3 linked regions of the Homo sapiens genome follow. The protein of the gene in region 2 purifies or fractionates together with the protein of the main gene of each other region. This does not show direct contact. Each region holds a gene or a part of one and is shown on either strand. Other genes may lie near its edges.

The links.
Region 1: the proteins of MYO9A (region 2) and MAPK6 purify together in Homo sapiens (co-immunoprecipitation; one large-scale study listed by IntAct). This does not show direct contact.
Region 3: the proteins of MYO9A (region 2) and NUP98 purify together in Homo sapiens (affinity purification with mass spectrometry; one large-scale study listed by BioGRID and IntAct). This does not show direct contact.

The regions. Positions count from the first base shown.
Region 1 is NC_000015.10:52,057,181-52,060,832, forward strand, and holds part of MAPK6 (mitogen-activated protein kinase 6), read left to right. Parts: exon of another isoform or gene 1-75; intron 76-1,452; coding exon 1,453-1,617; intron 1,618-3,652. UniProt on the Homo sapiens protein: Atypical MAPK protein. Phosphorylates microtubule-associated protein 2 (MAP2) and MAPKAPK5.
Region 2 is NC_000015.10:72,048,596-72,052,247, forward strand, and holds part of MYO9A (unconventional myosin-IXa), read right to left. Parts: intron 1-3,652. UniProt on the Homo sapiens protein: Myosins are actin-based motor molecules with ATPase activity. Unconventional myosins serve in intracellular movements. Regulates Rho by stimulating it's GTPase activity in neurons.
Region 3 is NC_000011.10:3,675,552-3,679,203, reverse strand, and holds part of NUP98 (nuclear pore complex protein Nup98-Nup96 isoform 1 precursor), read left to right. Parts: intron 1-2,583; coding exon 2,584-2,695; intron 2,696-2,827; coding exon 2,828-3,045; 3' UTR 3,046-3,652. UniProt on the Homo sapiens protein: Plays a role in the nuclear pore complex (NPC) assembly and/or maintenance. NUP98 and NUP96 are involved in the bidirectional transport across the NPC. May anchor NUP153 and TPR to the NPC.

The sequences.
Region 1 (3,652 bases), about 20 Mb from region 2:
TCCTGTTAGAAGGACCTTCTCTTTCCTGCTTCAGTATTTGCTGTCTTTAGTTACCACATCGCAGCCAGGGTGGTCCTGTTGAAAGACAAGGTAGATCATGTCATCTCTGCTCAAACTGCATGATGGCTTTCCATCAAACTCAGGGTAAAGCAAACCCTTTGTTCTAGTACCACTCTGACTTATCTCCCATTATCTGCCCCAAGCTACTCTCCTTTTGCTACACTTGTCTAATTGTTGTTTCTTTGACATACCAACCTGCCTCTGTCTTCTGGGCTTCTCTCCATCTTCCTAGAACTCCTTTCTTTCTTCCATATGAATGTTTGGTGTATTCCTGACTTCCTTAATTTTCCACTTCTTAGTGAGGCCTTCCTTTGTCTCAAAAAAAAAAAAATGTCTTATTGTTGCCCAGGCTAGAGTGCAGTGACATGATCTTGGCTTACTGCAACCTCCTCCTCCAGGGTCCAAGCAATTCTTGTGCTTCAGCCTCCCAAGTAGCTGGAACTATAGGCATGCGCCTTGCCTGGCTAATTTTTGTATTTTTGGTAGAGATGGGGTTTTACCATGTTGGCCAGGCTGGTCTCGAACTCTTGACTTTAAAAAAGTATTAACAACCCTATTCTTCCCAACAGTGCCATCACCCTTAGCTTACTCTCTTTTTCTTTATAGCATATGTCACCATAAGACCTACTTTACAGAATTATCTGTCTTTATCCACAAGATTGTAAGATCCATGAAGGCAGGCACTTGGTCTGTTTTGTTTCATAACTGTATTCTCAAGTGTCCTGCGCATAGTAGGAACTAAAAGGAATTTTGAATGTTCAATGAATTTATAGACATTAAAGGAAAGGCAAGTGGAATTTTTATTTTTTGTTTTTGAGACAGGGTCTCACTCTGTCATCCATGCTGGAGTACAGCAAATGGAATTTTTAAAAGTCACCACCTATTTAGCCTAAAGTTTCCCCCTTTATTTCTTTCATTGCCTAACAACCTAGAAATGCTAACTGAGCCCTAACATAGAACTATAAAACTTCCTGTTTTACAAGTCTAGTCCAACCCTTCATTTCATTGATGTTGAAATAAAGTCCTAAGAGATGTTAGCTATTGTCTCTGAAGTTATAGCCAGTAAATTAGTGGTACAGTTAAGACCAGAATCCAGATCTCTTGAATCTCAGTTGCTTTTTTTTTCACTAGTTTGTGATAACCTTAATATGAGACCAAACTTAAAGAGTCAGTTCCCTATGGAAACAAAGCAGCAAAAACTAAATACATCAGTAAGCAGAAATTGAAATAGATAAGTAGATTGGTGATAGTCAAAGCAATGAAACCTGCTGATGATACAATTCAAACTTTTCCCCCCACTGGTCATTATAATATTTAAATTAGTTTAGTATGTTTATTGTGAAATAAGTAAACATTGAGGAATGTGTTTTTTTGTTTGTTTTTTAACCTCAGGTGCACATGAACTTGAACAGATGCAGCTGATTTTAGAATCTATTCCTGTTGTACATGAGGAAGATCGTCAGGAGCTTCTCAGCGTAATTCCAGTTTACATTAGAAATGACATGACTGAGCCACACAAACCTTTAACTCAGCTGCTTCCAGGAATTAGTCGAGAAGGTATTGTGACTCGAGAGTAACCCTCACGTTAATGCCTGTGTGTGAGGCAGAATCTGTGTAGGGAAGCTGGAGCTTTTTATCCTTAGATATGGGGCTTTCTCCAAAATAGTCTTTAGACACTTAAGGTGTACGTAAAACTTCAACTCTCATTTTCCCTTTTTTTGTCCTGTTACTTGGGCTACGATCTGTTTTTTTGGTTCCTCTGAATCACTTTCCAGAGCAAGTAGCAAGTATTTTGAATATAGGCACTGGGGACAAAATCATGATGGCATTTTTTCCCTCAGATATACTTGGAACTCCTGTAAATGCCTGGATAAAAAGAAAGCTGCTGTATTTAATTTCAGCCGGTTTTGCAGGCTTTTCAGTAGTTCCACATTCTTAATCAGTCTTTGAGTCTGTCTGCACAAATTCCATTGCTAGCTCCCTTGCTCGTAACCCTGTAGCCACTGTCACAACATCCCTGTTCATATCTAAATGAGTCCTCTGTGGGAACACTTTATTTTTATTTTTTATTGAAAAATAGAGACAGAGTCTTCCCTGGGCTGGTCTTGAACTCCTGAGCTCAAGCAGCCTTTCTGCCTCAGCCTCCCACAGTGGTAGTATTACAGGTGTAAGCCACCACACCTGGCCAAGGAGCACTTTTAAAATGCTGAACTAGTAATTCTGAATTGGGAGGTGGAGTGGGGAACAGGGTGGGTGTCTGCATACCCTCTCTAAGGTGTGACTCTGCTCAGCCAGGTGAAGACACTGTGTGCAGTGATAACCTGGATCCACTTCAGAGTAGTTGTCACTAATCAAGAGGACGGTGCTGTTGAAGCATTTGTAACCTTGCTGTATAATGCTATTTGAATCTTTTTCGTACCCTCATTAGGGTGGGGACCATGTTTTAATCTTTGAATTAAACTGAATATTTGGCCACTGACTGGGGTTTATTAACCATTGAGCAAAGATCCTTGGTGGTCACATGTGGCAGCACTGTGCTTGCAAGCAAGTGAATGCAGAGTGGATGGAGTTTCTGAGACTAAAGATTTATCAATTGTATGCTCCATACTACTTTCTTCTTAACAGTGGAGTTTTATTTTGGGACAGAGCACATTCTGAGGCAGTGGCAACTTGGTAAAAAGAATACATGTTCTCACCCCACATTCTTTATGATCTTTGAAGGAAAAAAGCAAACAGGATTAAGTACATCTGAGTGAACGTATAAGACTCCTAGGAGCCCTACTCTGGTTAATTTCCCTCTATACTTACCTCTCATCCTTTCTGTAGTATACCATATATTTCTCTAAGCATGGTTCAGCACCATTGTAGCATTCCTGTAGTCCTAGCTGTTCAGGAGGCTGAGGCAGGAAGATTCCTTGAGCCCAGGAGTTCAAGGCTACAATGAGCTATGATCATGCTATTGCACTCCAGCCTGGGCAACCGCAAAGATGCTGTGTCTTAAAATTATCTTTCTAAAGAAAAGAAAAGGGTTCTTTCTAGAGTACAGGTTGGCTTGAGAGAGAAAGGCCATCTTTCTCACTTAGAAGGCAAGGATAAGAGGATGTGTGAGTGACCATAGTGAAGAGGTAGGGATTGAGACAAATGTGAAGTGGGTTTATCTGTTGAGAATGATAAAGAAGACCGAGAGCATAAAGAGAAGGCCAGATAGCAAAGGTCACAATGAAATTGTTTAGTATGAATTTGTAATGAGCCAGATATGGGATATTGCAGCTAGTTTTCATCAGTTTTGTGTGGCCAGGGAGCAGAGAGAGTAGATGGTGGTGGTGATCCAGGGTTGAAGGTTGATATCATAAGGCATAGAAGTGTGTGGCTGGTGTAAATATAGCTTTCAGGCTGCGTGAGGAACTAAGGAAGGCCTACTAGACTATTTTATGGGAAGAACTGGATTTGTGGTTAACCAGAGTCCTAAGATGTGCAAGGTCAGTGTGTGAACTATGCTGGAGTGTGATGTGAAGCAGAGATCAAGAAATTAGTACAACAGAGATGTTTTACTGTTGTACTTCCCATCAGTGAAGGATGGGAAAGGGCTTTT
Region 2 (3,652 bases):
TTTTTCCACCCCTGAACCTCTGTTAATTACTACAGTCCTATAATAAATTTTGGTATCTGAAGGGCACATTACCTTAATGTGTTGTTCTTTACAAATTTTACCTTGGCTATTTACACTACCATAAAAATGTTTAAGTTTGCATGTTTACTATCGTGAAAAAAAACCTTTTCAGATTTTAATACTGCATTGACTTTACAGATTAATATTGGACAGAACTGACATCTAATTGACTCTTCTCATTCATGAACACCATGCTGTTGGCTTTTAAAAATTACAACTATATTTTTCACTTCTAAAGTTTTTGTCATTTTCAAATCCACCTCATCTTTTTTCCGCCGATTTACATTTCAAAATTATTTATACTTAAGGGCTATTACTCCTTTTCTTTTTGAAAACCCTCAGTATGTAATTTAATATTTTTCAGACTAACACTGAAATGTCATCCAGACGGAACTGCTCTTATGGTTATTTCATATCTTCCTTAGCATGAGATGAGTTCATATATTTGAGAATTTAGCTTTACAAGTGCACTTTTGATGGAACTTCTTTTGTTTTTCATACAAACACTTACTGAGAACATGTTTACTACTTTTTTAAGAGAACTACAGTATCATAAATATATTTTTAAAAATTAAAAATTTTGGTATTAAATGATCAATTGATATTCAAATTTCCAAATTTCCTCAGTTATCTCATAAATATTTTTCTTACAGATAGTCTAGCTGGAGATTCTGCTCTGCAATAACAGTGAGGATATACTCTGAGTTACCAGGTTCCTAGTTGTATAGCTATGTTTGCTTTCCTGAATCCCTAAGTGTTTGCTTCATATACGCTATGGCATCTGGCAGCAGTCAGCAGCAAATCTTCTTACAGCCAGGGAGGCTGTGACCTGTACCACTCCAGGAGATGTACTAAGTTAAGGGGTCCCCAACCTCTGGGCCATGGACCAGTGCCAGTCCATGGCCTGTCAGAAACTGGGCCGCACAGCAGAAGATGAGCAGCAGGCAAGTAAGCATTACTGCCTGGGCTCTGCCTCCTGTCAGATCGTCAGCAGCATGAGATTGTCATAGAAGCATTAAGCACTATTGTGAACTGCATATGCAAGGGATCTAAACTGCATGCTCCTTATGAGAATCTAACTAATGCCAGAGAATCTAACTAATCATCTAATACCTGATGATCTGAGGCAGAATAGTTTCATCCCAAAACCATCCCCTACTACCCCATCTGTGGAAAAATTTTCATCTATGAAACCAGTCCCTGGTGCCAAAAAGGTTAAAGACCACTGTACTAAGTAACTACAATCTAATCCCTAAAGTTGTATAATATGGCAGCCCTGGAAGTAAACTTAGAAACATCTTTTTTAACAGGAGTCCTATCTTGGACCACTGTTTCCAACAATAAGCCCAACTCTAATTACACTTCCCCATTACTTCAAAGCAGCCAAAATCACACCTGCTCCTTCCTGAAACAGAAGTGTTTACCTTTTTTGAGTCCTAGTTTTGTCAGTTTGGTTTTATCTTTGTTATTTTATCAATTACTGCTTTGTGGGTTTTTTTGTTTTGTTTTTTTTTTTACAAAAAGGAGGGTTTGTCTCAAAATACCACTCAGAAATCCATCTTGATCACAAGCCAGTCCTTACTAAACAGCTTGGAAAATCTGTACTTGCAAATCCGAGACATGAGCTTTCATCAAAATCATCTGGGGAGCTTTTTCAAAACGTACATTACCAGCCGGGTGCGGTGGCTCACACCTGTAATCCCAGCACTTTGGGAGGCCGAGGCGGATAGATCACGAGGTCAGGAGATCAGGACCATCCTGGCTAACATGGTGAAACCCCATCTCTACTGAAAATACAAAAATTAGCCAGGCATGGTGGTGGGCACCTGCAGCCCCAGCTACTCCGGAGGCTGAGGCAGGAGAATGGCGTGGACCCTGGAGGCAGAGCTTGCAGTGAGCCAAGATCATGCCACTGCACTCCAGCCTGGGTGACAGAGCAAGACTCCGTCTCTAAATAAATAAATAAATAAATAAACAAACAAACAAACAAAATTTTTTTTTAAATGTACATTACCAGGCTCAACAATAGTTATGAGTTGAGGAAATGCAGGTAATTCTGTTATTGCTGGTCCAGAAAATAGTATTTGAAAATCACCATATTCCCAAATATTTGGGAACTCACTTTCTACTCCCTTACCACTCTTCCCACATAGCAAGCTACTTGACAATGCTCCGGAGAAGTCACAAAATTCCACAGAGTTGGTAATCCAAAGGTCTTTCCTCATTCTTCATTTTAACACACCACACTATGGCATGACTAAAGCAGCCAATTTCTAGTTCTTGAAAGTGTACTCACATAGTTATTTTTCTTGTAGTCTTCCTGATAGTCTTGCTCTTTTTCTGACTCACTCCTACAGCTCCTTTTCCATTAACTCACTTTATTTTGTTGTTGTTTTGTTTTGTTTTTGTATTTGTTTTTGTTTTATAGAGCCAGGGTCTGTCTCTGTCATGCAGGCTGGAGTACAATGGCACAATCATGGCTCACTGCAGCCTCAACCTTCTGGACTCAAGTGATCCTCCTGCCTCAGTCTCCCGAGTAGCTGGGACTGTAAGTGCATGCCACCGATGGCAGCAGCGGCCCATCTATAGCGGCCACTGCCATGATACCAGCTGCAGTGGGGGAGGTGCAGCCAGGACTGCGTGCTCCATGGAGGCAGCAGAAGCCAGGAACAGGTGGGAACCCTGCCACCTTCTGAGTTGACAGGGCAGGAGTTTCGTGCTCCCTAGGTGCAGCTGCGGCCACCTGCCCAGGTGGGCTGCAGACCCAGGCATCACTGTGCTCTTGGGGGATGGGAGCAGGCAGGAGCCCCACCCTCCCAGGCACAGCTGCAGCCGCCCAAGCTGCAGCTGCAGACCCAGGCATGTCTGCACTCTCAGAGGCCCAGGAAGGCCCCCCGCCCAGTCCCTGCAGGCTCAGAGGTGTTTGCTCCCACTGCCTGGCCTCTCCTCACTCCCAGCACCCACTCCAATCTCAGAGAAAGGTTGGGTCCGAGACTGGGCACTGTCACAGCCTGGCCAAGTGTGCACACGCTCCAGATAGCACTGATACACCAGCCCCCTGCCACCTTGGCCCCCTCTAAACTTTGGGTGCCTACAAACACTAGAGGGAGGCTGAGGGGGTACTGAGGGCAGCTCAGTACCTGTAGGCACCCCCTGTCACAAACAGCCTGGGCACCATGAACAGCAGGAGGAGGCAGGCAGGCTCCTGGGCAAAAGGAGGCAGGTCCCTGGTGAAACCCCACCTTCAAGCCAGGGAAGGCCTGAAGCCTGGGGACCAGGCTTTCCATTGGCACCCGATGACCAGAGTGGGAACTTGTGGTGCTTTCTCCAGGCTCACCCATGGTTGTCAATGAACCAATCAGTACACACACCCTCCCTGCTGAGACCTATAAAAGCCTGAACTCAGCCAGACTTGGGGAGACAACCACCTGCCAGTTGCAGAGAAAAGGTGCCCACCCCAGGGTCTCCTCTCTGCCGGGAGTTGAGAAGATGATGGGACAACCAGCTGCAGGGAGAAGCTACCCACCCCAGGGTCTCCTCTGCTGAAAGCTGAAGAGATATCCAACTACCAGCTGCAGTGAGGAGCTACCCA
Region 3 (3,652 bases), on a different chromosome or scaffold from region 2:
ATCATTTGGCATGTTTTAAAATTGCAAATATGGGTTTTAAAGTCAATGTCTTCGGTCAGTTTTTTTTTTTTTTTTTTTTTTGGAACAGAGTCTTGCTCTGTCATCCAGGCTGGAGTGCAGTGGTGTGATCGTGGCTCACTGCAACCTCTGCCTCCCAGTCTTAAGTGAGTCTCATGCCCCAGCCTCCCAAGTAGCTGGGAGTATAGGGTGTGTGCCACCACACGCAGCTAACTTTTGTATTTTTAGTAGAGATAGTGTTTCACCACATTGGCCAGGCTGGTCTTGAATTCCTGGCCTCAAGTGATCGGCCCACCTTGGCCTCCCAAATTGCTGGGATTACAGGCATGAGCTTACCGCACGCCTGCACGCAGCCTTAAGGTCAGTCTTTGTAGTCGTAAAATGAGTCTCCACTGCTTGCTTATGGTGCAAAAACCAAACTCATTATAATAAATATAGGATTCAAGTCCTTTTAGAGGCTTTTACCTTTCCTGCCTTACTCCTACCACTCTTATTCCACGTTCCAGCCTTGCTAGCCTGCTGTACTCACACTAAATTACTTCTGGTGTTTCTAACAAACCATATTATGTTCCACACTACCTAGCACACTTAAACTCATCCTTTTAAGATCTAGGTTGCTGTTACCCCTACTTCTCTCTGCTTTTCCCCAGAGATAATTAATTGCACTTTCTTACTACCAAGATACTTAGTACATTATTCTACTAGTGCACCTGTCAGACCATATTGTAGTTACTTATTCATATTTTCAGGTTGCTATAAGCCCCTTTTGGGAAGGTCTTTTACGGTTACAGGCAATAGAGTGTAGAGGTTAACAGCTCAAGTTCTGGAAGCAGACTTATAGATTCAATTTGTGGCTTCCAAATTCACTGGCTATGTAATCTTGAGCAAGTTAACTACCTCTCTCGTCTGAAAGAAAAAGGTGGGTGGGGTAGACAGTAGTACAGATTATAGTTCATATTGACAGATTTTCACAAAGATTAAACAAAATCTACATGAAGTGTTTTACATAGTACCTTTCATGTACTAAATGCCTTTTTTTTTTTTTTTTTAGGCAGAGTTTTACTCTGTCACCCAGGCTGGAGGGCAGTGGCACAATCTCAGCTCACTGCATCTCCCAGCTTCAAACAATTCTCCTGCCTCAGCCTCCCCAGTAGCTGGGATTACAGGCGTGTGCCACCACACCCAGCTTTGTGTGTGTGTGTGTGTATTTTAGTAGAGACGGGGTTTCACCATGTTGGCCAGGCTGGTCTCAAACTCCTGACCTCGGCCTCTACTAAATGCTTAATAATTGTTATCTATTATTATCCTCATCAAAGTTCCAACTCCTAGTACAGTGCCTGGCACATAATAGACATAATTCAATGTTTGCTGTACTTTTAGTATGAATCAAGAACATCATTTCTAAATAATCACTTGAAGAAACCACTTTCTCATTGAATATTGAGTAATTCATTCACACAACCTATTATGGAGAACTCACTGTATGCCAAGCACTGTAGTGGGTTTGGGGAATATAAAGGTAAACAGTATGTGTTCTGCCCTTACCAAAATAATGATTTTGTGGGGGAGATACATACAAGTAAAGCAGCAATTACTATAGCTTGATAAGTATAGGGATTAAGCAAAGGGTACTATCAATGTGCCAGCACATAGCTGGATGTGGTGGTGCATGACTGTAATCCTAGTACTTTGGGAGGCTGAGGCAGGAGGATTGCTTGAGACCAGCCTGAGCAACATAACGAGACCCCCCTTCTCCCAAAAAAAAAAAAAAAAAACCTATGTTACATAAAAACTCTCTAGTATTATCTTGTTCTGCTTCTTCTCCTTACCCTACATGTCACCATGTAAATCTCCTTTGAATTCCCACCTTTGGGGGTTTTAGCTGTCTTCTCTTTGCCTGGAAAGCTGAGCTCTCTCCTTGTTATTCAGGTCTCAATTTAAATATGACCTCCTTAAAGAAGCCTCTCTTGGTCCTCCAGTCTCAAGTAGCTATCCAGTTTCTCTCTGCCACATCCACCTGTTTAAATTATCTACATGGCTTGTGATTTTTCAGGATTTATTACTGTTTTGTGTTTTCTTATTTATTTTCTATCAGTTTCATGAGAGCAAATAACCTGTCTTGCTCTTGATCCTCCTGCCCCCTGCACACAGCTTTTTTGGTGTTTTAGAAAAGGCTATAAACTTGGAGTCAGGGGACCTAAATTAAATGTTGGTTCTGGCTGCATTTTTTACTTCCTTGTGTGCTCTTTAGAAGTCATACCATCTCTCTGAACCCAATTTATCTTGATTTTTGGTGCTGTGTTATTAAAGCTTGCTGTATAGTTCGGGATCTCAAGACTTTTCCTAGTCCAAGGCTAGGTAACTGTGTTACCTTCCTCTTGGCTATTACTGCATAATTAGTGCCTTGTCCTCCACTAGATGGTGGTGGCTTGGCCCTGTGTCATCATCTTGGATTTTCCCCTCCCTCACCTCACTGTTGTTTCAAGGTTTTGTGTAGAGTCTATAGGTGGGATTGGAGTGATAGGAACTCCCCTTGGATTAATTGGCTTCTCTGCTTCTTTGTAGGTGGATTGCTCAGGTAATGACCTGGAGCAGTTACACATCAAAGTGACTTCACTGTGCAGTCGGATAGAGCAGATTCAGTGTTACAGTGCTAAAGATCGCCTGGCTCAGTCAGGTAAGCCTCTAACCTCCTCACTCTTTCTGCCTTCTTGCTTCCTGTTTTTATGATTATTACACCCCACCCTCAGTGCCTACCACCCTTCTCCAGACCCCATGCTCAGTGCTTGACTCTAGTTTTTCTCTCTAGACATGGCCAAACGTGTAGCCAACCTGCTGCGCGTGGTGCTGAGTCTGCATCATCCTCCTGATAGAACCTCCGACTCAACACCAGACCCTCAGCGAGTCCCTTTGCGCCTCTTGGCTCCCCACATTGGCCGGCTTCCCATGCCTGAGGACTATGCCATGGACGAACTGCGCAGCCTTACCCAGTCCTATCTGCGAGAACTGGCTGTTGGGAGCCTGTGAGCCCCAGGCACTTTGCATCACAGTCACATGCCCATTCACACCACACAGAGGTTCCCTGCCTTGTTTGGATTGGCACTGTTTGCCATTCTCTGGGTTGGCTGTGGCATCTACCCTCCCTCCCTGCTGCCAGAAGCAGCATCCTCCACTTGTTCAGGGCTTTTCTTAATACTGAACGTAGCATAAGGGCTTCTGGAACCCAGAAGAGGAGACAGTTTACCATCCTCAAGATCATTCAGTGTTTTTCCTTTAAAAAAATGGTCAATAAAGCTCCTTTGGCAGAATCCCCCAAAGAACCAGGGTATTCTTTTTCCATCCCTAGCCATTCTGGATCTTGTGACCCTCCATGCCAACCAGCTTCCCTACTCCTACCCTGGCCCTTTTATACTAGGACTCCTTAGGAGGAGTGAGACAGGTGATAATGGATCCTTAACAGATGAACTATCCACAGAAGGAAGAGGGATCCGTCTCTTAAGTAATTGGTTAGTTAACACTGAATTTTGGAGGCAAAGGAGGGTTGGCCTGAGTTAGGAAACAAAATGGGATCTTTCTGACACACTTAGGGCAGAAGTGAATGCCTGTCACGGAGGGATTGATCTTCAGGGCTGTT